4 linked regions of the Homo sapiens genome follow. The protein of the gene in region 1 purifies or fractionates together with the protein of each later gene. This does not show direct contact. Each region holds a gene or a part of one and is shown in the gene's direction. Other genes may lie near its edges. The genes, in order: MCRIP2, ATXN2L, DDX6 and ATXN2.

What was found.
Region 2: the proteins of MCRIP2 (region 1) and ATXN2L purify together in Homo sapiens (co-immunoprecipitation; 2 studies listed by BioGRID and IntAct, with this or other methods). This does not show direct contact.
Region 3: the proteins of MCRIP2 (region 1) and DDX6 purify together in Homo sapiens (co-immunoprecipitation; 5 studies listed by BioGRID and IntAct, with this or other methods). This does not show direct contact.
Region 4: the proteins of MCRIP2 (region 1) and ATXN2 purify together in Homo sapiens (co-immunoprecipitation; 3 studies listed by BioGRID and IntAct, with this or other methods). This does not show direct contact.

What each region holds. Positions count from the first base shown.
Region 1 is NC_000016.10:637,953-644,854, forward strand, and holds the start of MCRIP2 (MAPK regulated corepressor interacting protein 2), read left to right. Parts: upstream 1-3,875; 5' UTR 3,876-4,039; coding exon 4,040-4,091; intron 4,092-4,167; coding exon 4,168-4,297; intron 4,298-4,301; exon of another isoform or gene 4,302-4,393; intron 4,394-5,101; exon of another isoform or gene 5,102-5,192; intron 5,193-6,902.
Region 2 is NC_000016.10:28,818,380-28,826,022, forward strand, and holds the start of ATXN2L (ataxin-2-like protein), read left to right. Parts: upstream 1-4,619; 5' UTR 4,620-4,880; coding exon 4,881-5,179; intron 5,180-5,514; exon of another isoform or gene 5,515-5,663; intron 5,664-5,745; exon of another isoform or gene 5,746-6,044; coding exon of another isoform or gene 6,045-6,163; intron 6,164-6,986; coding exon 6,987-7,023; intron 7,024-7,244; coding exon 7,245-7,301; intron 7,302-7,390; coding exon 7,391-7,462; intron 7,463-7,643. UniProt on the Homo sapiens protein: Involved in the regulation of stress granule and P-body formation.
Region 3 is NC_000011.10:118,781,165-118,788,194, reverse strand, and holds part of DDX6 (probable ATP-dependent RNA helicase DDX6), read left to right. Parts: intron 1-1,676; 5' UTR 1,677-1,943; coding exon 1,944-2,143; intron 2,144-7,010; coding exon 7,011-7,030.
Region 4 is NC_000012.12:111,451,687-111,456,318, reverse strand, and holds the end of ATXN2 (ataxin-2), read left to right. Parts: intron 1-62; coding exon 63-290; intron 291-1,199; coding exon of another isoform or gene 1,200-1,274; intron 1,275-2,473; coding exon 2,474-2,642; intron 2,643-3,478; coding exon 3,479-3,507; 3' UTR 3,508-4,105; downstream 4,106-4,632. UniProt on the Homo sapiens protein: Involved in EGFR trafficking, acting as negative regulator of endocytic EGFR internalization at the plasma membrane.

The sequences.
Region 1 (6,902 bases):
TATGATGACCAGTGGTTCTCCTGGGGCCCATGCACCTCTCCTCACCCAGATTTCACCTGGGCTTCCCTAGGCACAGGAAAGAGGAGCCCGAGATCAGTCTCTCTGCGCCTCCCTGCTTCCCCCCTTGAATGGAGCTGCGTTCAGGAGCTGCCTACAGTGCCCAGCGCATGGCAGGTTTAGTGTTGCCTGACTTCAGATATGGCCTATTGTTGGGGCTGGATGTTTGGGCCTCGTGGCTTGACCACCAATGGCTGAAGCAAACGCTAGCTCTGCTGAGCTCTGGGCCAGCCCAGCTTGTCCTTGCCGCCTGCAGTGGGCCCCAAAGGTGGGGGGCCGCCTTCGGGAGCCTGTGTGAGCTCGGGTTATGCCCTTCCCCACATGGGGCTTCCCTCCCCAGCACCGCCCTCACTCTAACTCAGCTGGTCCTTGCTGCCAGGTCTTCCACAGGAGCATATGCCCTCAGGCTGTGCACAGGCCCCCCAGCACCCCGTCCTGCCTCCCTGGCCTGTGTGAGTGATTGCGCTGAAGGCCACTGGGAGAAGCCAGGGCAGGACGCAGGCTGCACAGATGACGGGGATCACACTGGCCTTCCTTGAAGGACACGATGCCCGATGCTGGTGGGGGGAGGGCAGAGCCAGGTGGGGGGAGGGGAACTGGGGGAGTGGGGAAGGTGGGGGCAGGGGTGGGGGTGGGAGGTAGAAAAGAGTCCGTGAGGAGTCCTTCCTAGGGGGCGTCTCAGGCTTGGCCTCCCTGGCTGTGGCTTGCCATCTCCTTTGCCCTCTGAGGGCCACAGGCCTGGCCCAACCCTGCAGAGAAGGCAGCTGGGGATGGAAACCTCTTTCCTTCCGCTCTTCAGCCATGCTGAGGAGGGGTACAGGGCCAAGAGACACCTGGGTCAGAAGCTTCCCTGAGGGCCTCCCAGTAAGTCTGGAGCTCCCAGAAGGGAGGAGAAGCAGGGCCAGTGCATGGGGTGGGGGCTCCTCGGGCTGGCCCCCCACCACCAAGGGCCTCCCCTCACCCCTCCATGTGGTGCATGTTGCTTGCCTGGAAATTTAGACAGGAAGACTCTGGGCCCTGCCGCCCACCCGCCACAGCTCCGTTTTCAGCCACAGCATCCCTGACCTCTCCTTGGAGAATGTGGGGGCCACTGGACACGCCAGGCCCTGATGCCGGCACAGGCAGCCTCCTCTTGTTCCTGGACCAAACTGAGAGTCGGGCTGCTATTTCTCGTGGCCCAGTAACGAGATGCAGATGAACTGGTGAGGAAGAGGGTTTTTATTTCTGCAGCCGGTTACAAGGAGAAGGCCTGGAAATTATCACCAGAACAAGTCAAATTACAAAGTTTTCCAGAGGTTATGTACCTTCCAACCTAGATGTCTGTGTGTAAGTGTGCATTCATCTGAAGACATAAGTGGTTAACTTTTTTCTTTTTTCTTTTTTTTGAGACGGAGTCTTGCTCTGTTGCCCAGGCTGGAGTGCAGTGGCACGATCTTGGGCTCACTATTTTTAGTAGAGACGGGGTTTCCCCGTGTTAGCCAGGATGGTCTCGATTTCCTGACCTCGTGATCCGCCCGCCTCGGCCTCCCAAAGTGCTGGGATTACAGGCGTGAGCCACCGTGCCCGGCCAAGTGATTAACTTCTTTTAATCTATAATTAAGGCCTGAGTCCTGAAGACCTTCCCCTGGAGCCTCAGTAAACTGACTTAATCTTGTTTCCTGCTAAATCATGAAGGTTTGGGGAGTTCCTTCGGGCTCCCAATAAACTTGTCTGTGGAGGCCTGGAGAGTTTCTTCAGACCTCCAATAAACTTGTTTAATCCTAAACGGGTCCTATTAAGAATTCCTTCGTTATCTTGTCGCGCTTCAAGGCCCAGGAGAGGCCTGGGCACAGCTCTTGGTGGGCTTTTGTTACATTCCAGCCTTTGAAGAAGGGCACTGGCTTTTCTTCTTTAGAGTCCTGCTCTGTCGCCCAGGCTGGAGTGCAGTGATGTGATCTCAGCTCACTGCAACCTCCACCTCCTGGGTTCAAGTGATTCTCCTGTCTCAGCCTCCCGAGTAGCTGGGACTACAGGTGTGTGCCACCACACCCGGCATTTTTTTTTTTTTTTTTTTGAGACGGAGTCTCACTCTTTTGCCCAGGCTGGAGTGTAGTGGCACGATCTTGGCTCACTGCAACCTCTGTCTCCCAGGTTCAAGTGATTCTCCTGCCTCAGCCTCTGGAGTAGCTGGGATTATAGGCACCTGCCACCATGCCTGGCTAATTTTTTTTTTTTTTTTTTTTTTGTATTTTTAGTAGAGATGGGGTTTCACTAAATTGGCTGGGCTGGTCTCGAACTCCTGACCTTAGGTCATCCACCTGCCTGGGCCTCCCAAAGTGCTGGGATTACAGGTGTAAACCACCGATCCTGGACAGCTTTTTAAGCTTTTAATATTGAACTAACCACTCTGCACTGAAATAATTGTTATGGAGGCCTGCGTTAGTGAGACCTGGCCTGCCACACTCTCACATCTGTGGGGCGGGTACAGGAGCCCCAGGGGCCGAAGAGGCACACGTCGGGCCTCTGGGTGCACCTCAGCCTGGGGGCCAGGACGTGGGGCAGAGTGCAGCCAGGGTTCTGACTCCTGGGGTGGAAGGGAGACTCCCAGGGCATCATGTCTCTACCCAAGTCCAGGGGGATGAGCCGCTTTTTCTCTTCTTAGACCCAGTCCCAAGACCCAAGCCAAGGGTGACCCTTCACACTGGCCCAGGCCTCTGCAGGCACCTTGGCTGAGGCTCCCCAAGTATGAATGGTAAATCCTTGCCTCCAGCCTCGGCACAGAGGAGCCCAGCACAGACGCCCCCAGCACAGAGTCCCCCAGCACACAGCCCCCAACACAGAGCTCCCCTGCACACAGCCCCCCTGCACAGACACCCCCAGCACAGAGTCCCCCAGTACAGAGCCCCCAGCGCAGATACCCCCCATAGCACAGAGCCCCCAGAACAGAGACCCACAGCACAGAGTAGCCCCCCAGCACAGGGCCCCCCGGCACAGGGATCCCCAAGCACAGGGACCCCCCCAGCACAGGGATCCCCCCAGCACAGGGCCCCTCAGCACAGGGCCCCCCAGCACAGGGACCCCCCCAGCCCAGGGATCCCCCCAGCACAGGGCCCCCCAGCACAGGGCCCCCAGCACAGGGATCCCCCCAGCACAGGGCCCGCAGCACAGGGATCCAGCACAGGGACTCCTCCCCAGTACAGGGATCCCCCCAAGCACAGAGACCTCCAGCACAGGGATCCCCCCAGCACAGGGCCCCCCAATACAGGGATCCCCCCAGCACAGGGATGCCCCCAGCACAGGGCCCGCAGCACAGAGCCCCCCAGCACAGGCACAGGGACCCCCCCCCAGTACAGGGATCCCCCCAGCAGAGAGACCTCCAGCACAGGGATGCCCCCAGCACAGGGCCCCCCAGCACAGGGATCCCCCCAGCACAGGGATGCCCCCGGCACAGGGCCCGCAGCACAGAGCCCCCCAGCACAGGCACAGGGACCCCCCCACAGTACAGGGATCCCGCCAGCACAGAGACCTCCAGCACAGGGATGCCCCCAGCACAGGGACCCCCAGCACAGGTTCTCCTCCAGCGCTTGTCAAAGGTGGGCCCTGGGGCTCCGAGGACCCTGCTCGCACATCGCCGCTGACCCCGCAGGGCCCCTGGGTCCTCGCCGCCAGCAGTCTGAGTGCGGTGCCCCGACACTGACATGGCCTCCAGGCAGCAACGGCCTTCCCGGGCAGCAGGGCGCCTCGTCCGCCTTGGCCTCGGGCCTCCGGGGGCTGGGGCGGGGTTGCTGGCGGCTCCGCCCCCGCCTGCCAGTTTCCCAAAGGGCGCAAGCGCCGCCTCCGCCGCGTGTCCGGGGTCAGCCCGAGCCCGTGCGGGCCCTTTAAGGGCCGGGGGCGTGTAGCGGGCCCGCCCCCTCCCCGCGGCGCCCGCAGTCCGTTAAGTGCGAGCCCCGGCGCAGGGGCCGGATCTGGCCGGGGGCCGGCGGCGGTGTGGGAGCGGCGCGTCATGTACACCATCACCAAGGGGCCCAGCAAGCTGGTCGCGCAGCGCCGCACAGGTGCGCACGGGCCGGGGAACGGGAACGGGGACGGGGCGGGGCGCGGCGGCGGCTGACCGCCCCCCGGTGCCCGCAGGTCCCACGCAGCAGCAGGTGGAGGGCCGGCTCGGCGAGCTCCTGAAATGCCGGCAGCCCGCGCCGCCGACCTCGCAGCCCCCGCGGGCGCAGCCCTTTGCGCAGCCGCCGGGACCCTGGCCCCTGTCGAGGTGAGACGCGCGCGGCCCCGGCCCGGCCCGGCCCGGCTTCCCCTCCCCCGCCGGCCGCCCTAGAGCGGAGGGTGACCTTGGGGAAATGTTAGTGAGGTCCGGCCACGTGCTGCAGGCGGGGCGGGCGCTCCGGGCGCGGGGGGTGCGCGGGTCCTGCCCACTACGCGCCCGCGGGCCTGCGCCTCGCACTTCCGCCTCACCTGGCCGGGCCCGGGCCCCCAGCGGGGAGAAAGCCGGCCAGTTCCTGGGTCGCAGGGGCCTCCAGCGTCCGAGGTCGGTGCTTCGGGCGACCTTGGGTTGCTGCTGGAACCCTGACGTGCAGCAGGCCCAGGCCACGGTTCGCGGAGAGCGTCGGGCGCTGGTCCTCAAGATCTCCCGGCTCTGCCCTTGCAGAGCTCAGTGGGGGAGACGTGCGTGCGCTTCCCTCGGGCAGGGCCGCTGCCCTCCTCCGCCCTTCACCCCAGACACCCTGGGGCAGTGGGGCCTCCCCCCATCCGGTTGCTTCTGCTTTTCCTAACCCAGTTAGGAAACTCCGAGACCACAGGAGCCTCAGTCCGGCCACTGTGGCCTCCCCGTGACCATGACCCAGAGGTTGGACAGCCCCGCAGGGCTGGACGTTTGACTTTGGCTCAGTTCCTCCACCGTTCCCTTCATTTATCCTGTGCCTCTCCCAGGCCTGTGGATTTTGCTGTGGCCCCAAGCCGGCCCGAAGGCTCCTGGAGGTGGTAGGGTCATGGCCTGAGGCGGTGCTGGGGAGGAGAGCTCGGGCCAGGAGTTCAGGGCAGCTACAGGTGGGGGGGTGCCGAGCCACCCTCAGCCTGCCCCCTGCCTACCTCTCAGAAAGGTGTGGAGGTTCCAGCGGGGCGGGGGCTCTCTGGGGCTCCATCCTAGTGAGGTAAGTGCCCTCTACCAGAGGCGCCTTCTGGCGGGAGGTGAGTGGGCCCCTAGGTGCTTCCAGCATCCCAGCTCTGCTGGGACGCTCCGCGGACATCACCCTTGGTCCTCGTGGCCGCTCTACTTCCCAGGGGAGGAAACCGAGGCACACCTGTAGCCACCACCTGGTCCCCAGGCAGGGAGCATGAGGCTGGAGTGGCCCAGGGTGACGCCGTCTCTCTTAACCTGGGGAAACCACCTTTCTTCTCTCTCCAAGACCCCACTGCTAGGGAGGGCAGGGGTAAGGCTGTGGCACAGTTAGGAGGAGTTAGGGAAGAAGATGGAAATGCTTCCCAGAGTTCTCCATGGGACCCCAAGGGTCCCAGTGGGCAACACCAGGCCCACTGGCTGTTGTCTCTTTTTTTTTTTTTTTTTTTTTGGAGACAGAGTCTCCATCTGTCGCCCAGGCTGGAGTGCAGTGGCGCAATCTCAGCTCACTGCAACCTCTGCCTCCCGGGTTCAAGCGATTCTCCTGCCTCAGTCTCTTCAGTAGCTGGGACTACAGGTGCGTGCCACCATGCCCGGCTAATTTTATATTTTTGTATTTCACCATGTTGGCCAGGATGGGCTCGATCTCCTGACCTCATGATCCACCCGCCTCAGCCCCCCAAAGTGCTGGGATTACAAGTGTGAGCTACCGCGCCCGGCCTGTTTTCTTAAAGTCCCCATGTGAGGTCCTCTGTCAGCCAGTGGGACCTGTGGGAGTTGAGTGGGCTTCACCCCGTGTGCAGTGGGGCTAGAGGAGCCCTGGGCAGGGCAGGATGTGTGCTGCCCTCTCCTCCCTGGGGTCACCCACCTTCCCACCCCCAGGCCCCAGCGCTGGGAGCTTCTGGCAGCAGTGGGATCTCTGCATGAAGCCCCCATCCTGCTCCTGCACCTTCTTGGGGCAACCACCTTCCCTCTGTTTCTTTTTTTTTGAAATGGAGTTTTGCTCTGTTGCCCAGGCTGGAGTGCAATGGCAGGATCTCCGCTCACCGCAACCTCTGCCTCCTGGGTTCAAGCGATCCTCCTGCCTCAGCCTCCCGAATAGCTGGGATTACAGGCGTGCACTGCCACACCCAGCTAATCTTGTATTTTTAGTAGAGTCAGGGTTTCTCCATGTTGGTCAGGCTGGTCTCAAACTCCCTACCTCCGGTGATGCGCCCACCTCGGCCTCCCAGAGTGCTGGGATTACAGGCGTGAACCACCGTGCTTGGCCAACCACCTTCCCTCTGAACCACCCCACCCCATGCTGCCACCCACCTCGCTGTTTTTTACTTCATTTAATTTTTTTCTTTTTGAGACAAGGTCTTGCTCTGTCACCCAGGCCGGGGTGCAGTGGTGCAATCATGGCTCACTGCAGCCTCAACCTCCCAGGTTCAAGTGATCCTCCCACCTCTCGACTTCCTGAGTAGCTGGGATGACAGGCGAGCACCACACCTGGCTCATTTTTAACTTTTATGTAGACAGGTCTCACTATGTGGCCCAGGGTAGTATTCAATTCCTGGGCTCGAGCAATTCTCCCGCCTTGGCCTGTGGAAGCGTTGGGGTTATAGGTGTGGGCCACCGCGCCCGGCCCTGCCCTGCCTTTTCTTCTCCTTGGTGCTTTTTGCTACTCCTCATCTCTCACTGACTGGGCGCGGGAGGGGGGTGTCGGGGTCCCTGCACATCTCCTGGTGCACCCAGAGGGTCA
Region 2 (7,643 bases), about 28 Mb from region 1:
CTTTGGGAGGCCAAGGAGGGTGGATCACCTGAGGTCAGGAGTTCAAGACCAGCCTGACTAACATGGAGAAACCCCCTCTCTACTAAAAATACAAAATTAGCCAGGCGTGGTGGCACACGCCTGTAATCCCAGCTACTCGGGAGGCTGAGGCAGGAGAATCACTTGAACCCAGGAGGCGGAGGTTGCAGTGAGCTGGGATCTCACCACTGCACTGCAGCCTGGGTGACAAGAGGGAGGGAGACTCTGTCTCAAAAAACAAAAAACAAAACAAAACAAAAAAACACCCTGGCCGGACATGGTGGCTCACATCTGTGATCCCAACACTTTGGGAGGCAGAGGCAGGTGGATAGCTTGAGGCCAGCAGTTCAAGACCAGCATGGGCAACACAGCAAAACCCCATCTTTACCAAAAGAAAAAAAAACCAAGAAACAAAAAATTAGCTGGGCGTGGTGGTGCACACCTATAGTTCCAGCCACAACTACTTGGGAGACTGAGGTGGGAGGATCTCTTGAGCCTGGGAGGTGGAGGCTGCATTGAGCCAAGACCCCACTGCTGCACTCCAGCCTGGGTGACAAGAGCGAGACCCTGTCTCAACAACCACAAAAAAGAATACATCCTTCCATATCTCCAGTAGAGTCATAACACATTCAGGAAATTTATCATGGATGCAATACTTTGTAGTCTATATTCCAAATTTATCAATTTTCCCCATACTGTCTGTTTTGTTTTTATTTTGAGATAGGGTCTCGCTCTGTCGCTCAGGCTGGAGTGCAGTGGCGAGATCACGGCTCACTGCAGCCAGGACCTCCTGAGCTCAAGCAATCCTCATTTTCCCCCATCCCCCCATCACAGGTAATCAATTTGATGAGTTTCTGGTTTATACTTTGTTTTTCTTGGCAAAAACCTGCAGATACATTTATGTCTTCATATTTCCCCTTCTTCCTTATACAAAAGGTAGCACAGTATACAAAAGGTAGCACAGTCTTTTGAAGTTTGCTTTCTTTTTCTTTTCTTTTTTTTTTTTTTTTTTTTTTTATGAGATGGAGTCTGGCTCTGTCATCCAGGCTGGAGTGCAGTGGCATGATCTTGGCTCACTGCAACCTCCACCTCCCGGGTTCAAGCGATTCTTCTGCCTCAGGCTCCCGAGTAGCTGGGACTACAGGCGTGAGCCACCACACCCAGCTAATTTTTGTATTATTAGTAGAGACGGGGTTTCACCATATTGGCCAGGCTGGTCTCGAACTCCTGACCTCACGATCCAACCACCTCGGCCTCCCAAAGTGCTGGGATTACAGGCGTGAGCCACTGAGCCTGGCCATAGTGATATAATTTTTAAATTGCACACGATAAGACAACATTCCCATTGTTGGGGCAGGAGTGCTGCCCCAACCCCACCACCAGGAATGTTAGGCAACCATCAGGTGATGGTCAGGTGGTTGTTAAACTTGTCTCTAAAATAGTAATTGGTTGCAGCCAGCACCAGGGAAAGGCAGTCTCCAAATAGATGGAAAACACTTGAAACTGATGATCAGCAGCTTCTCGATAAGATCTCAGAAGTTGGGTAAATGGGCTCAAGCTTATGCACCAAGAGGCAAAATGGCGGAGTTTAATGGTACATGCCCTTCCTCCAGGAATGCTAGATCTGTAAGGGAAGAACGTCTTAAGTGAGCATGTGCACTTCAGTATACTGAACACACTGTGCTTGTGGCCCCTCCAAGTGCTGGCAGGCCACCGTGCATGTGGACAGCCCATGCCAAGGTAGGAATCAGGGGAGAAGAGATGCAAACCGTAAATCCCTGGAAGCATGCCAGCATATGAAACCCCAAGTCAAAGGTCAAACCAGGGACTTGAATCTGTCAAGTCATTCACGCCTGGCCCTCTTCCAAGTGTACTTTACTTCCTTTCATTCCTGCTCTAAAACTTTTTAATAAACGTTCACTCCTGCTCTAAAACTTGCCTCTGTCTCTCCCTCTGCCTTATGCCCCTTGGTGGAATTCTTTCTTCTGAGGAGGCAAGAATTGAGGTTGCTGTAGACCCCATGCAAATTAGCTGCCACTAGCAAGGGCAAGGCAAGCTATGGAGAAAGAAGTTTCATGGGGCTAAAACTCAGAATTTGAGTGTGGAGCAGGATGGGGTAGATGGAAGGGGGTTAGAGTGCTCAGTGCTCACAATCTGTCAATGAGGGTAGAGAGGTGGCATGGCATCAGGTGGTCCAGGTAATGCCAGGAAAAAGCTGGACTGTGTTTGTTAGGGAACCCAGGAGACATGATGACCTTTAAAACACCATTTGGGCTGGGCGTGGTGGCTCATGCCTGTAATCCCAGCACTTTCGGAGGTCGAGGCGGGTGGATCACCTGAGGTCGGGAGTTCAAGATCAGCCTGACCAACATGGAGAAACCCCGTCTCCACTAAAAATACAAAATTAGCCGGGTGTGGTGGTGCATGACTGTAATCCCAGGTACTCAAGAGGCTGAGGCAGGAGAAACGCTTGAACCCGGGAGGCGGAGGTTGTGGTGAGCCGAGATCGCGCCATTGCACTCCAGCCTGGGCAATAAGAACAAAACTCCATCTCAAAAACAAACAAAAAAACATCATTTGGATCCACTCACCTTACAGATATTTCATTGAGTGCCTGCAGTGTGCTAGAGTACTGCAGAGCAAGAAATAAGTCAAGATCCTAACCCTTAGGGAGCTGACATTAGCAGGAAGACAGAATTAAAGGAGCTGTTAGAATACAGTGGGATAAATTGCTCGGCGAGCACACAGGAGGGGAAACTAGCACATCTGAAGGCAGGAGCGAGGCAGGGCGAAGGACTATTACCCAAAAAGTAAGGCAGTGTTGTAGCTAGGTGTGCATGTGTTTGGTGCAGGGGCTGGGAAGAGTTCCAATGCTAACATTTAGAGCGAAGAGATTGAGACATTGAGAGTTTCGCTGGGATTAAGACCACATGGACTTAACAGCTCCACTCCATTCTCCACGTTGCAAAGAGTAAACCTTTAAAAATGCAAATCTGACCTCTTTTCACTTGTTTTTTTGTTTGTTTTGGGGGGAAGGAGTCTTGCTCTGTCACCCAGGCTGGAGTGCAGTGGTGCGATCTGGGCTCACGGCAACCTCCGCCTCCTTGGTTCAAGTGATTCTCCTGCCTCAGCCTCCTGAGTAGCTGGGATTACAGGCATGCACCACCACGCCTAGCTAATTTTTGCATTTTTAGTAGAGACAGGGTTTCACCATGTTGGCCAGGCTGATCTCAAACTCCTGACCTCAAACCTCCCAAAGTACTGGGATTACAGACCATGCCCAGCCTCTTTTCACTTTCTTAAATAAGCTCCCCACTGCTTTGAGGATAATGTCCGTGTCTCTTACAAGACTTGGGAGCCTTTAAAACCTGATCCCAGATTAGCTACCTCTTCCCCCCTTTAATTTTATGCTTAGGACAAGCTGAGTTTTTCTTAGTTTGTCATATCCTATTTCCCTGCCTAGAAACCCATCTCCCCCTGCCCTCTTATCAGTTTTTTTTTATAATTTAAATTTTTTTTTTTTTGTAGAGACAAAGTCTCACTTTGTTGCCTAGGCTGGTCTCAAACTCCTGGCCTTAAACGATCCTTCTGCCTCGGACTCCCAAAATGTTAGGATTACAGGTATGAGCCACTGCGCCCGGCCCTCCTGTCCCTTATCTGGGTCTCCCAAAACTGGATTAAGATTAGGTGTCACTCCCATTTGCTCTTGTAGTCCTCTGTGCTTCACCTACTAGATCTCGTCAAATTCTCTGAATTCACCACTAGCATGAACTCCTCCAGAGCAGGAAGCAGTTTAATTATCCTTGTGTCCAAAACAACTAACTGAATACTCCAATGCCCAACTCATTTTGAATGAATGAAGCTGCCTTCATTGCAGGGTCGGGTGGAGGATTTTGAACTCGGAACTTTGGCCTTCAGTCTTTGTTATTACAGTTTAAAGATTCATTCTCGGGCATGGAGGAACAATTTAGGTCAAAATCACAAAAATCTGAAATAATTTAGGACGAGGCGTAAATTTATCTGCAAAGATCAACACGCTCAAACGAATCACTAATGCTCATCAGTCTTTTACTTAAAGCAAACAAGGTGGAGGGTAGCTCCTTGCGAAACCTACCACCTGCCTAAAAGCGCAGTGGCTCGGGTGGTCCAGTCCCGGAGACTTTCTTGGCACTTAAGGCTCTGCCCACGGGCCGCCAAGTGGCGGAAGAGCCTCACGCACGACGTGCCGCCTCACACTCCCGCGGAGGCATCGCGACGCAGCGACGGCGTGGGCGGAGAGGCCGGCCCTTCCTCTGGCGCCTTCGGCTCCTCCCCCTGCGCCTCACACGCTCATTGTGAAGCGACAGCGGCCGCCGGCTTCTAAGGCGGTTTGAGACCTTAAGACCCTAAATCCTTGGCGCGCGTGAGCGCCCGCGCCGCTCCTTACCCACTCCCAGGGCTAGGGGTGCGAGGTTCACCGACTTGATTCTCTCCCACTTTCCCGCCGGGAGCTAACCGCGCCGGTGTGCGCGGCACCTCGCGCCACTGCTCGCTCCTGGCCCCCCCCCCCCCCCCCCCCCCCCGGGAGCTCCCACCCGCGCGCTCCTCCCTCTCCGCTCCCCGGCGACGCGCACGCGCGCCAGCCCGGCTCGCGCCCTCTCGCTTTCCTCCAGCCGCGAGACCCCCTCCCCTTCCGCCTCGCGGCGCTTCCTCGCGCCGCGGTCTTCTCTCTCCACCCCCGACACCGCGGGGCTCCCCCCGCCCGCCCACGGCGGGCCCCGGCTGCCCGATCCCCCTCGCTTCCCGCGCTCTCCAGCGGGGCCCCAGCCCCGGCCCCCTCTCTCCCTCCCTTCTCTCTAATTCCCCTTCCGGACGCTGCCATCATGTTGAAGCCTCAGCCGCTACAACAGCCCTCCCAGCCCCAGCAGCCGCCCCCCACGCAACAGGCCGTGGCCCGTCGGCCCCCCGGGGGCACCAGCCCTCCCAACGGCGGCCTCCCGGGGCCGCTGGCCACCTCTGCGGCTCCTCCCGGGCCTCCAGCGGCCGCCTCCCCCTGCCTGGGGCCTGTGGCCGCTGCCGGGAGCGGGCTCCGCCGGGGAGCCGAAGGCATCTTGGCGCCGCAGCCGCCGCCGCCGCAGCAACACCAGGAGAGGCCGGGGGCAGCCGCCATCGGCAGCGCCAGGTGAGAAGGGTGGGCTCCGGGCGAGGGAGCCGCGGCCACCCAGAGGCTGTGGCTCGGTTCCGGTGGGGCGGACCCCGACCCGGCACCGTCAGGGGCACCGGCTGGGTGGGGAGTCCCCGTGAAGCTGGGGGAGGGCCCCCTCAGGTCCGAACAGGTCGGACGGAAAGGGTCCCCGGGCGGCCACCGGAGCACTGAGGGGCCGCGCTCGGCTCTCGGGGCCTAGTCAGGGCTCGCAGCCCCGGCCTTCAGGGGAGGCGGGGCGCATCCCGCCGGCGCCGTCGGAACGGGGAGTTGGGGGGGGGCAAGGAGCTGATCGGGGTCCCCGGTTCCATTACCACGAAGGGTCTCGCGGTCCCCGGCTTCAGCCAATGGGGAGTCTGCTGCGGGAAGGGGTCCCCGGCCGTAGCCAATGGAGGGGGGCGCGCGGCCCACAGTTTGGCCAATGGGGAGGGAGGGACTTGGGAGCGGGTTGCTGCCTCCCCCTTCCCGGTCTGGCCAGTAGGAGGGGAGCGAGGTGGGCGGGGGGACGGAAGGAGGGATGACTGGGAGGACTGCGGGCCGGGAGCCTCTGGCGCGCGCGCCCCCTTCCCGTACGTGCGCGTGGATGCTCGGTCTCATGACCCGGGCATTCGCGCGCCCCGGGAACACCTAGGGCAGGGACTAGTTCGTGGAGGGGCTCGTCTGGTGGCAGTGCATGAGTAGTGGAGGCCCTGCTCAGTTTTTCCTGTGCGAGTGTGTGTGTGTTAATGGAATTAAGAGTGGCAGCACACGCAGGCGCAGTGGGCTCTGATCGCTGGAGGTGGGGGTTCGGAAAGTCCCGTGGGTTTTAGTGCGCAGGCGCAGACCGGGCGAGGCCTCCCGGTGGATGGCTTTTGCGGCTGCGCTGTCCCCCAGCCCCGCCAGCGGCCCCCTCTTCGCCCTCAACCGCCGGTTACATCAGCCAGCGACGAGCAGGGTTACCTGGCGATTGGTGATCCCCGCAGAGTGGGTAACGGGCTGAATGAGTCATGAGGTCGAGGGGATGGGGTGTGGAGGGGATACCCCTCCTCCCACAGTTTTGAGGCGTCAGGCTGCTGAAAATGATTGTCTTTTCTGTTTGGGAGGTAATGTACCTGAGCTAGGTAGTTCCAAAGCTGCACTCCTGGAGCTTTTGCCCTCACAGCTGGCGTGGCTTTTTGGTTAATACTGTAGCATTGATCTGTTGGTAGCCTGCAGCCCTAGCCCCTTTCTCGTTGGTTCTTAGAGCAATTGACAACCATTGTTGATTGAGATCTTTTTGCTGGCATTTGGAGGAAATGTGTTTGCTGGCTTATTAATGTCTATTTTTTTCTTCCTCTACAAGGTGACAGTTTGAAAATCTTATTTATTGGCCGGGCGCAGTGGCTCACGCCTGTAATGCCAGCACTTTAGGAGGCAAAGGTGGGAGGATCCCTTGAGCCCAAGGAGATCGATACCAGCCTGGGCAACACAGATGGGAAATCCCATCTCTACTAAAAATTAAAAAAAAAAAAAGCCAGGAGTGGTGGTTCGTACCTATAGTCTCAGCCACTCGGGAGGCTGAGGCAGGAAGATCACTTGAGCCTTGGAGGTTGAGGCTACAGTGAACTGAGATCACGCCACTGCACCCCAGCCTGGGCAACAGAGGGAGACCCTGTCTCAAAAAAAATAGAAAAATCTTACTGATTAACAATTTTGTAGTCTAAATCAGCATCATCAGGTGGTATATACTTCTAGGATTTAACATTAATTTCATAGTGGTCTAAGAGGGCTTGAACAGACTTAAGTAATTTCTTGTTTTCTTTTATAGGGGACAGAGCACAGGAAAGGGACCCCCACAGTCACCTGTGAGTGTCTTCTCCCACCCTGTTTAAGATACATAGACCTAAAAGATGCATAATGTGGGAATATAGGGCACATTAGGTCTAGATAGAGTCTAATGTACTCAGGAGGGCTGTGGGCCCGGCACACACAAGGCAGAATGAGTAGAGTGCGGCGGGCATTTAGAAAAGAAAATGAGGTGTTGACTGATTACTCCTTTAATTCTCCCTCTTATGTTAACTGACAGGTGTTTGAAGGCGTCTACAACAATTCCAGAATGCTGCATTTCCTTACAGCTGTTGTGGTAAGTTGGTACTTAACCCCCGGGTTGTTTAAGGAACGTAATGCATCTACTTTCTGGAGACACTCTTCTTATTTTTCCCACTCTGCCAGGGCTCCACTTGTGATGTAAAGGTGAAAAATGGTACCACTTATGAGGGTATCTTCAAGACGCTAAGCTCAAAGGTCAGTGTACTCAAATTTAATTATTTTTGGAGTTGCAGAGTAGGAGGAGAATGAAATAGGCTCATTGAAGGTGTCAATTGGGTGATGTCAGAGTATGCCTTTAGTTGTTTCTGTAGGCCTGTGCTGAATAGTGCTGCAGGGAAAAAAGACAAATTTGAGGGCTGGGTACTTTAATGTTAAA
Region 3 (7,030 bases), on another chromosome or scaffold:
AGTAGCTGAGATTACAGGGCCACCACGCCCAGTTAATTTTTGTATTTTAGTGGAACGGAGTTTCACCGTGTTGGTCAGGTGGTCTTGAACTCCTGACCTCAGGTGATCCACCAGTCTTGGCCTCCCAAAGTGTTGGGATTACAGGCGTGAGCTACCGTGCCCCTCCTACCAGTTCTTTTTTTTTTTTTTAAACTATTAATTAGCTTTACTACTCTGGATTTCTTGGAAAGTTTTCTTAAAATTACTAGTGTGTTTAGTCTTCCGCGGATTTTTTTTTAAACAGGAATTTTCCTGTTTTTTTAAATTTAAAATTAGAATAGTTATTAGCTAAGTTTGTTATAAATGAATAAAATTATTAGAGTCATCTTGGTTTTGTCAATTTCAAAATAAAAATTCATTTATACAAAATTTGTGTATATCATCCGTCCTTGGGATCATTACTTGCTGGATGCATTATGGCAGAAATACACTATTCTCTTGACTGCTTCATTTATTGTTTTAAAGGACAAAAAGGAAAAAAGAAAATACATTTTTCTTCTTAAAGTTTTTTGTTGTTTTTTGAGACAAGGTCTCTGTCACCTGGCTCACTGCAGCCTCCGTCTGCCAGGTTCAAGCGATTCTCGTGCTTCAGCCTCCCAAGTAGCTGGGACTCCATTACAGGTGTGCACCACCATGCCCGGCTAAATTTTGTTTTTTGTTTTTTTTTTCTTGTTTGTTTTTGTTTTTGAGACGGAGTCTGGCTCTGTCGCTGAGGCTGGAGTGCAGTGGCACAATCTTGGCTCACTGCAACCTCCGCCTCCTGGGTTCAAGCAGTTCTCTGCCTCAGCCTCCCAAGTAGCTGGAATTACAGGCGCTCGCCACCACGCCTGGCTAATTTTTGTATTTTTAGTAGAGACAGGGTTTCACCATCTTGGCCAGGCTGATCCTGAACTCCTGACCTCATGATCCACCTTCCTCGGCCTCCTAAAGTGCTGGGATTACAGGCATGAGCCACTGCACCCGGCCTAAATTTTGTATTTTTAGTAGAGATGGGGTTTCGCTATGTTGTCCAGGCTGGTCTCTAACTCCTGACCTCAAGAGATCGCCCGCATTGGCCTCTCAAAGTGCTGCGATTACAGGCCTGAGCCACCAGCACCCAGCCCATAAAGTTTAATAGTTGAAATTTGTAAGGGCACAAAGGTGTTTTTTTCTGGAAGTGTGAAGTTCAAGTCAAAAGCTCACTTAAATCTATAAGGACTCTCGGTTGCTATTACAAGTAGAAGAAAATTAATGAATTGTCTTGTTTAAATTGTGTGATACTTCAGTGAGTTGTAATGCAATTAAGTATAATGAATCACTGACTTTTAGAGATGTCAGAGACTTAGAGAATTCATGGGGAGGAAACTGAAGAGAAGAGATTATCATTGACGAGTAGTGCTAATTTACTAGTCTCTTTCTACTTAATCTCTGGATTGCTTTGAATTAACAATTTTAAATGTTTGATATTGGCCTCATTGTGTTTTTGAGATAGTTCAAAGTTGTGTCTATCCTAGCTTGGCTCGTGATTTGGTCTAAGTGTAGCTGTATTATTAATTCTTTAATATAAAAGATGAGAATTCTTTTAAAGGGGTTCTTTTAAAAGGGAAACAAAGTTTTTCTGTTGTGTTTGCTAATTTAATTTTGTTTGTTTGTTTCAGATTGACGTGAGTGAATTCAGATATAACTCAAGCTTGTTAGAGGGCTTTTTAAAAATAAAAAGTTGATTCCGTGCAAGAGAGCAAGTTACTGCTGCTTACCGTTCAGAGACTTACAGGTGCTTGCCTGCATTGCAATAAAGGACTCATTTATTGAGCAAGACTTATATTTATCTCTTCATTTTGGAGAGCCTAATAAACTGTTATTACAGTTTCTCTACTGACTTTCAAAAGTTTTGAAGTTTGAAAGACCTTTGCAATTAAAACAGCATGAGCACGGCCAGAACAGAGAACCCTGTTATAATGGGTCTGTCCAGTCAAAATGGTCAGCTGAGAGGCCCTGTGAAACCCACTGGTGGCCCTGGAGGAGGGGGCACACAGACACAGCAACAGATGAACCAGCTGAAAAACACCAACACAATCAATAATGGCACTCAGCAGCAAGCACAGAGTATGACCACCACTATTAAGTAAGTGTTAGAGTAAATTATTAATAAACACTTGTGGGGAACCAAGATTTGTGTTACTTTGGTGTTGACTATTAATACTTATGCCTTAATTTAACCATTTTGATTCCAAATAGAGGACAGATGACTTTGTTTTATGGCCAGTAGGTATTTGCAATAGAATAATATATTTCTGCCATAATTTGTTCAGCAAGTAGTCATCCTGAGGTCAGATGATACACACAAATTTTGTATAAATGGTTTTTGGAAACATTTCTGGCTTTCATAATTAGTGTAAAAGTTATTAGCTTAGTTTGTTGTAAATGAATAAAATTATTAGTCATCTCGTTTTTGTCAGTATAGTTTTTTTACGACTGCACCTTACCCTAGTTAAACAGCAGATAAAGCCAACTTTATGTATTAAATTTAAAGACTCAGTCTGAGTCTTTAGAGTCTTTAAAGACTTGCCCAGCCTTCTGAACTCCAAGCATTATTCACTCAGAAAATTTTCTCGTAACTTTTTTTAGCTTATGGAACTTAGCTTTTTTACTTTAAAAAAAAAAAAAAGTTGGCTGGTTGAGGTGACTCATGCCTGTAATCCCTGTACTTTGGGGAGGCCAATGTGGGAGGATCACTTGAGTCCAGGAGTTTGAGACCAGCCTAGGCAACATAATGAGACTCTGTCTCTACCCAAAAAAAAAATTTTTAATTTTTTTCCTCCTTTTACATATAAAAAGGGAACTAAGAATTTTGAACTCACAGAACACAGTTCTGAACAGTCTCAGAAACCTTTTGTTAACCTTAAAATTGAAGAGCCTCCTCTTACTAGAGGATATTTTTTCTTTTAAAGCTGAAAGTATGTAGGCTATTTGTTACTTTTAAGTGCATAGTTTAAATTACAATATTTGAATGGTAACCATCACTTTAAAGATTCAGTTATAGGAAATTAACATTTAAGATTCTTGACTCCAGTTGATGTTTGGCTTTTGTTAAGAACTTGCCATATAGGTCCGGGTGCAGTGGCACACGCCTGTAGTCCAAGCACATTGGGAGGCCAAGGTGGGCGGATCACCTGAGGTCGGGAGTTCGAGACCAGCCTGACAAACATGGAGAAACCTTGTCTCTACTAAAAATAAACCCCGTCTCTACTAAAAGTACAAAATTAGCTGGGCGTGGTGGCACATGCCCATAATGCTACTTGGGAGGCTGAGGCAGGAGAATCACTTAAACCCGGGAGGCGGAGTTGCAGTGAGCCGAGATTGCACCATTGCACTCCAGCTTGGGCAACAAGAGCGAAACTCCATCTCAAAAAAAAAAAAGGCCAGGTGCGGTAGCTCACGCCTTTAATCCCAGCACTTTGGGAGGCTGAGGCAGGTAGATCACGAGGTCAAAAGTTTGAGGCCAGCCTGACCAACATGGTGAAACCCTGTCTTTACTAAAAATACAAAAATCAGCTGGGTGTGATGGCATGCGCCTGTAATCCCAGCTACTCAGGAGGCTGAGGCGGGAGAATCACTTGAACCCGAGAGGTGGAGGTTGCAGAGAGCCAAGATCGTGTCACTGCACTCCAGCCTGGGCAACAGAGAAATACTCCATCTCAAAAAAAAAAAAAAACTTGCCATATAAAATAATTTAACCCTGGGAATCTTTATAAGATGTTGACACTGGGTTACTGAACTGAGGTATATGTTTTATTACAACCTAGATCTTTTCACTTCCTACAGAAAAATAGCTTATACAAGCTACCAGACTGTCATATAGTTACCGTATGTGGTTCACTAGGACCTCTAAGAACTAATTTTCAGCAGAATTGGTTAGGTCATTGGGAGAATTGGTATTAGTGTATATTCTGTTATTTTTAAGGTGAATGCTTTAATTGGTATAGAAATGAATACTACTTCAGTTGTAGTTTGTCTTGGCAGAATGTAAGTAGGTTAGCAAAATTTAGACTATTTTTAATTTTTTTTATAACTTTTTTTTTTTTTTTTGAGACAGGGTCTCACTTTGTTGCCTAGGCTGGAGTATGGTGGCACGATCATGGCTCACTGCAGCCTCAACTTCCCAGGCTCAAGTGATCCTCCTGCCTCAGCCCTACAAATAGTGGGGACTACTGGCATGCACCAGTAGCGACGGCGTTTTGTCATGTTGCCCAGGCTGGTCTGGAACTCCTGAGCTCAAGTGATCTGCCCACCTCGACCTCTCACAGTGCTGGGATTACACATGTGAGCCACTGCGCCCAGCCTATTTTTAATTTTTTTTTTTTTTGAGATGGACTCTCACTCACTCTGTTGCCCAGGCTAGAGTGCAATGGTGTGATCTCGACTCACTGCAACCTGCACCTCCTGGGTTCAGTTCAAGCCATTCTCCTGCCTCTGCCTCCCAAGTAGCTGGGATTACAGGTGTCCACCATCACGTCTGGCTAATTTTTGTATTTTTAGTAGAGATGAGATTTCATCATGTTTGCAGGCTAGGCTTGAATTCCTGACCTCAGGTGATCTGCCTGCCTCGGCCTCCCAGAGTGCTGGGATTACAGGCGTGAGCCACTGCACCTGGCCTATGAGAATATTTTCTATTTAAAAAATTCTGGGGCTGGATATGATGGCTCATGCCGTTCATCCCATCACTTTGGGAGGCTGAGGTGGGAAGATCACTTGAGGCCAGGAGTTTGAGACTAACCTGGGCAACATAGCAAGACCCTGTCTCTACAAATAATAAAGGCTGCAGTGAGCTATGATCGCACCACTGCACTCAAGCCTGGGTGACAGGGTAAGACCCCATCTCAAAGAAATAAAAAATAAATTCTGATTTGGGGACAACAGTGGATTTTGATTTTTCTTTTCTGGTTTTCCTACGATTAATGGTTTCTTTTCAGTTCTGCGGTTCTTCAAATCTCATTTTCTCTGCCCTCTCTTCCATGAAGTCCTCTAGATCCCATCAAGTGTCTCAGAACACTTCTAATACTTAACCTCCGTCACTTACTTTCTCATTTTAAATAGTTTTTTCATCTCATAAGATTATAAATTTCTTGTGGTCAGGTTTTGCATTGTATCTTACGCATTATTATTCACTATTTTGTTGAATTCAACGGTATGTCAAACTGACATCAGAAACTTCGATGATACAGGCTTAGATGAAAGGCTTTAGTAGGCCGGGTGAGGTGGCTCACGCCTGTAATCCCAGCACTTTGGGAGGCCAAGGCAGGAGGATCACGAGGTCAGGAGTTTGAGACCAGCTGAATCCCCGTCTCTACTAAAAATACAAAAACTAGCCAGGTGTAGTGGCAAGCTCCTGTAATCCCAGCTGCTCTGGAGGCTGAGGCAGGAGAATTGCTTGAACCCCGGGAGGTGGAGGTTGCAGTAAGCCGAGATCATGCCACTGCACTCTAGCCTGGGTGACATAGCAAGACTCCATCTCAGAAAAAAAAAAAAAAGGCTTTAGTACAGTAGTAGTCTTGGAATTGGTAGCAAAAAGTTACCAATGTTAGAGTATGCATTATGTAGGACCTAGTTTTAAGTAAAATAAGTGGTCTTTTTGTCTGTGAATGGAGCATTTGAGATGTTTTGGGGACTCTGGTTATGTAAGAACAGCTGCAGTGAAAACTTTTTCGAAGATGTCACAGTTAAATACTTTGTCTGCAGATGTTCCCTGATCTTTTTTTTTTTTTTAAAGATGCTTTGAGTATTTATTACTTGAGGTTTTTACCTGGCCAAAAAGAGAGTTTATTTATATTCTCCTTGTTTTTATTCTCTTTCATGATTTCTAGCATTTCCAATAAAAAAGAAAGATTAAGAGATGCTCATTGGCTAATACTGTGCTATTATTTTGCCAGGCACTGTGCTGAGTGCATTATATCAATTGTTTGATGTAACTGTTAACCTATTTTGTTTTATTTATTTATTTGGAACGGAGCCTTGCTCTGGCGCAGGATCTTGGCTCCCGGGTTCAAGCAATTCTCCTGCCTCAGCCTCTTGAGTAGCTGGGATTACAGGCACATGCCACCATGGCTGGCTAATTTTTGTATTTTTGGTAGAGAGTGGGTTTCACCGTATTGGCCAGGCTACTCTCGAACTCCTGACCTCAGGTGATCCGCTTGCCTTGGCCTCCCAAAGTGTTGGGATTACAGGTGTGCGCCCACCTTATTTATTTTTGAGACAGAGTCTCCCTCTGTCACTCAGGCTGGAGTGCAGTGTCGTGAGCTTGGCTCACTGCAGTGTCCGCCTCCCAGGTTCAAGTGATTCCCCTGCCTCAGCCTCCCGAGTAGCTGGGACTACAGTTGTGTCCCACCATGCCTGGCTAATTTTTGTATTTTCAGTAGAGGTGGGGTTTCACCATATTGGCCAGGCTGGTCTCGAACTCCTGACCTCAAGTGATCCGCCCACCTTGGCCTCCCAAAGTGCTGGGATTACTGATGGGAGCCACCACGCCTGGCCTGTTAACCTATTTTAAAAATGAGAATAGCCGGCCATGGTGGCTCACACCTATAATCCTATCACTTTGGGAGGCCGAGGCAGGTGGATTTCTTGAGCCCAGGAGTTATATAAGATATATAAAATCTTACAGTTTTTAAATGTTGAGAACTAATTTAAACTCATTTAAATTAAAACACATGCTGTGTAGGTCAAACAAAACACCTTTTGACAACAGTTACACTGTATACAATATTGCTTAAGAGGATGGATGCCTTAATCCCTTCTGTTCTTGATTTTTTTATCCTCCTGAGATTCTCTATAAGAACACTTTTTCTAAAGTTGTTTAATTATCTTGTTAGATATATTAAATGGAATATATTAAACTTACTGTGCTTTTTTAACACTTAATTATAATTGAGATGAATCATCTTTGTTAGGATGCTATGAATTTTGATACTTCAAGTTTACTGTATTCTCTCTAGACCTGGTGATGACTGGAAAA
Region 4 (4,632 bases), on another chromosome or scaffold:
TATCCCTTGGCTGCTTTTCATTAAAGAAGTTTTCCTCTCAATTCTTTCCTGTCGCTTTGCAGCACCATCAGCACCAGGCCGCCCAGGCTCTCCATCTGGCCAGTCCACAGCAGCAGTCAGCCATTTACCACGCGGGGCTTGCGCCAACTCCACCCTCCATGACACCTGCCTCCAACACGCAGTCGCCACAGAATAGTTTCCCAGCAGCACAACAGACTGTCTTTACGATCCATCCTTCTCACGTTCAGCCGGCGTATACCAACCCACCCCACATGGCCCACGTACCTCAGGTAATACCAGCTTTAGCCAACTTTCTGTGAAGGCCAAGTAGAATGTGAAGGTTATCAGTAAGCAGCTAGAGGCTCTCCCAGCTAGGAAACCCTGTGTGTCATGCCATTTGCCTGTCTCCCTTTCCCTCTCAAATACACGTGATCTGGCCCTAAGGGAATGTTTGTGTGGTTTTGTCATGGGATCAGTGAAGGTGCTGATTGGTCAGTCCTTTAGTTTTCCAACTGAGACCTTAAAAATATCTTTGACTCTGGAATGCAACCCAGTCCTTCTTTCCTTTCTGTGTCTGCTTTGCTATGTCTATATAGCCTCACTACTATATATATGTGTACATATATATTCCCCTACACACTTACCTTGGAAGCCAGGCAGGGATGATGGCCTTCACAGAGTCTCAGCTCTCCGAAGTGACTACCGGGGCCTGTCAACTTGATTGTTACTCACATGAGTTCCAGACACATCTCTCCAATTGTTTTCCCTGGTTATCCATATATCTGCTTTGACCATAAGTTGTACTCTTGAGAGGGCTTGGCCTTGGACATTGGTGCAGTGTAACTAGAAGCTGGAAGCACCCAGGTGGTCCCATTTTTCTTTAAGAGCAGCCCTGGAAGCACTTTGGAGCTCACCTCCAGTGTAAGCTGCTACAGGTGAAAGGTGTGCTTGCCATCTCAGTGGTTGCTGTCTGCATCAGCTGCTGACAAAGGTCCCTGCACTCCAGGGCCCAGGGGATTGTCTTAATGAGGAGAAGGAGCTGCACTGAAGTTGGGCTCTAACGCTGGCCTTGAGGCCCTCCCTGGGGCTGTTACGGGTGAATTGGCTGTATTAGATGTCTCTGCTACTTTCATAACAGAACTCTCTGAGGCGGGTCTAAGTGAGACCTGCCACAATGAATTCCATTTCCTGTTAAATAGTGCGCCAGTGAGGCTCTGGCAAGGTGTGGGCTAGAGATGCGACTCAGTTGGATCTATCTCTCAGAAGGCTACCTTGTAAGTAGAGTTCCACAGCTCTGGGAAGTTTGGGCGTCCTCACCCTGCAAAGTTTAGGTTCTGTGGTGTAGCGCACTGCAGTTGATTTGCTTTTTGATAGTGGGGAGGGAAGCCGGTTTGGTCCGTGTGGGCCAGCGTGGTTTGGTGGAGTCAGCTTCATAAGAGCTGGGGTCCTGTAGGTGTCTACCAGAGGCTGGTGGCTAAGTAGGCATGTGAACTTACATGTAAGTCAGGGATCCCTAAAACCTCACTCTGTTTTTGTGCTGAAAGGGCAAAAAGGTTAACACAGGGAAGCTCAAATTTGCCATGTGCCCGTTTGAATATGTGAGAGTAAAAACGGCATTTCATCCAAGGCTTATCGTAGTCTAGAACAGTGCACAGTGTGGGAAAAAGGAAACAAGGGCTCTTCCTGGCCCTGCCAACCCCCTGCAGAGCTGGAATCCAGCTGTTTGGGCTGACTAAAATCACCTTTCCAACTTGACAGTGAGTGAGACCAGGTTGAACTTGGTACAGAGACGCTGGGCTGGCCCAGATGACTTCAGGTTACTCCTTTCCATCTCACTGGAGCCATTAAAAACTCCAACTCCTCCTCCTCCTCCTGCTCCATCAGCATATCTCTGAGAGAGTCACGGGGGCCTAAGAGTCTCTTTTCACTGCCTGGTGAGCAGACCAGAAGCAGAGGGAGAGAGGCAAATGAACAGAGGTCCAAGTAATTCACATACTTGACTGTGACAGTCTCTGCTTATTAATGTAATCTGTTTTCCTATTTGAAAGGGATGTTATCTGCAAAACTACCTCAGGCCCCACATGGCAGCCTGATTCTGAAGCATCATTGAATCTTGTATGATATTAAGTTGAGAAAGCTGCCCTTGGATCCAGTGTCTAATCTTTGTGAAGATCTTACCCCATACATAGAATACAATGATCAGAAATGTCAAGGGTTAGGACAGCACAGCCCTGACTTCTACCCAGGCTCACTTGTTGCCTGCTCCCTGACCCTTGCAGGATCTGCCCAAAGGTGAAGCGCGTCTTCAGGTCAATAGATAATCTACTAGAGATTGTCCCCAGAGAACAGAACTGGGCCCTGAGGCCCACCGTTGCCCTTTCCTGAGAGTCCCAGCCCAGTGAAAGGAACACAGTTGACATGTTGTTGAAGCCGGAGATGTTGCCTGTATGCGTAAAAGAGCTCTCTGTTTCAGGCTCATGTACAGTCAGGAATGGTTCCTTCTCATCCAACTGCCCATGCGCCAATGATGCTAATGACGACACAGCCACCCGGCGGTCCCCAGGCCGCCCTCGCTCAAAGTGCACTACAGCCCATTCCAGTCTCGACAACAGCGCATTTCCCCTATATGACGCACCCTTCAGGTGAGGCGTGTGTGTGCAGGGGCCGCCGGGGCACCCCAAAGCATTCTGCTCGCACAGGTGGAATGGCAGGCAGGGCCAGTGCTTCAAGCCCCGCATTTGAGAACTAGCAAGACCCGTCCAGGAGTGTGCACAGGAGGGACTGTGACGATCAGTTCAGCATCAGGGCCTGAGGCTTCCGGGAGCCGAGTCTGTGTGTGTTCTGATGGTATACAGGATTTGGCTTGATGAGAAGCAGCAGCAGCAGCAACAGCAGCCTGATGCATGCCTAGGACTCAGTTGGCCTTCCTTGTTATGACAGGCTGGACAGGGCAGTGTTTTCCTTCCTGAGTCCCAAAAGTCTGACATGTGGGGGGTTATTACCATGGCAGAGTTTGATTGTAGCTCTGGAGAAGATACTGCTGAGAAAGCGCTGTGGATGGACTGGCTTTGAGTGTAGCGTTAGCCCCAGCCCCTGAACAGGGGAGAGCGCCCTGTGATTGTGCTCTACTACTTGATGGCTGCCATGGCGATACTTCACAGTCTGACCTGTTATTCTGAAAGCAATACTGGTGCTTGGCTAATATTTGGGGAGGGGGTTTGTTAAGGCCTTTTTTTCTACCCCATGAACAAGTCTTCTGGGAGTTTTATCTGAAGTGGTTTTACGTCTGACTGGTTTGTTTCTACCCACCCACCCAACCCTCCCCACTTTGGTGCAGATGGGAGGGGGAAAAGCGAATTCAATTTTGAGTTTTGTTCAGCTAGCACGAGGATAGTTTACAATCATGTGCTGCAGAGACACTAGGCTGATGTGTGGTGTTGCCAGTTTTCTGTTTCAATGTTCGCTTTTCTTTTTACAGTACAAGCCCACCACCAACAGCAGTTGTAAGGCTGCCCTGGAGGAACCGAAAGGCCAAATTCCCTCCTCCCTTCTACTGCTTCTACCAACTGGAAGCACAGAAAACTAGAATTTCATTTATTTTGTTTTTAAAATATATATGTTGATTTCTTGTAACATCCAATAGGAATGCTAACAGTTCACTTGCAGTGGAAGATACTTGGACCGAGTAGAGGCATTTAGGAACTTGGGGGCTATTCCATAATTCCATATGCTGTTTCAGAGTCCCGCAGGTACCCCAGCTCTGCTTGCCGAAACTGGAAGTTATTTATTTTTTAATAACCCTTGAAAGTCATGAACACATCAGCTAGCAAAAGAAGTAACAAGAGTGATTCTTGCTGCTATTACTGCTAAAAAAAAAAAAAAAAAAAAATCAAGACTTGGAACGCCCTTTTACTAAACTTGACAAAGTTTCAGTAAATTCTTACCGTCAAACTGACGGATTATTATTTATAAATCAAGTTTGATGAGGTGATCACTGTCTACAGTGGTTCAACTTTTAAGTTAAGGGAAAAACTTTTACTTTGTAGATAATATAAAATAAAAACTTAAAAAAAATTTAAAAAATAAAAAAAGTTTTAAAAACTGATCAAGTTAGTGTGTGTCTGTATAAGCTACTTCTTTGTAGGATACTTAATATCAAAGCAGGTGTGCTAAGGGTGCATTTTGAATATCCCGGAAGGTAGCTGTGAAATGATTTTTCTTCTTCACCCTTAGTTCTGGTTCAAGGTATCTCTAGAAAAAGACAAGACTGAGCTATTCTCTTTGGTGGATTAGAGATCTGCTTCAGGAGGAGGAAGGTTGGCCAGAGTTGGGCAGCACTGAAATTCCACATCCTCGGGCTGACACCGATTCTGTAAGCTTCCTTTTTAATATCTCCTGAACCAAAATGAGTGTCATTAGCTGGAAGTTCCCAATTCGGGCATTTTTCTACTTTACCAGTAGGGGGCAGGAGACACTCAGAAAAAAATTGCAATAAAGAAATCCAGAGGGCATGAAGGCTGAAAAGATACAAAGATGTACAAAGCTGCTTATTGACATGGATGGACTCATAAGCATTTGTTAGTATTCCCAGATTGCAACGGGGAGGACAAAGGGAAGAGCGAGTATTTGGGC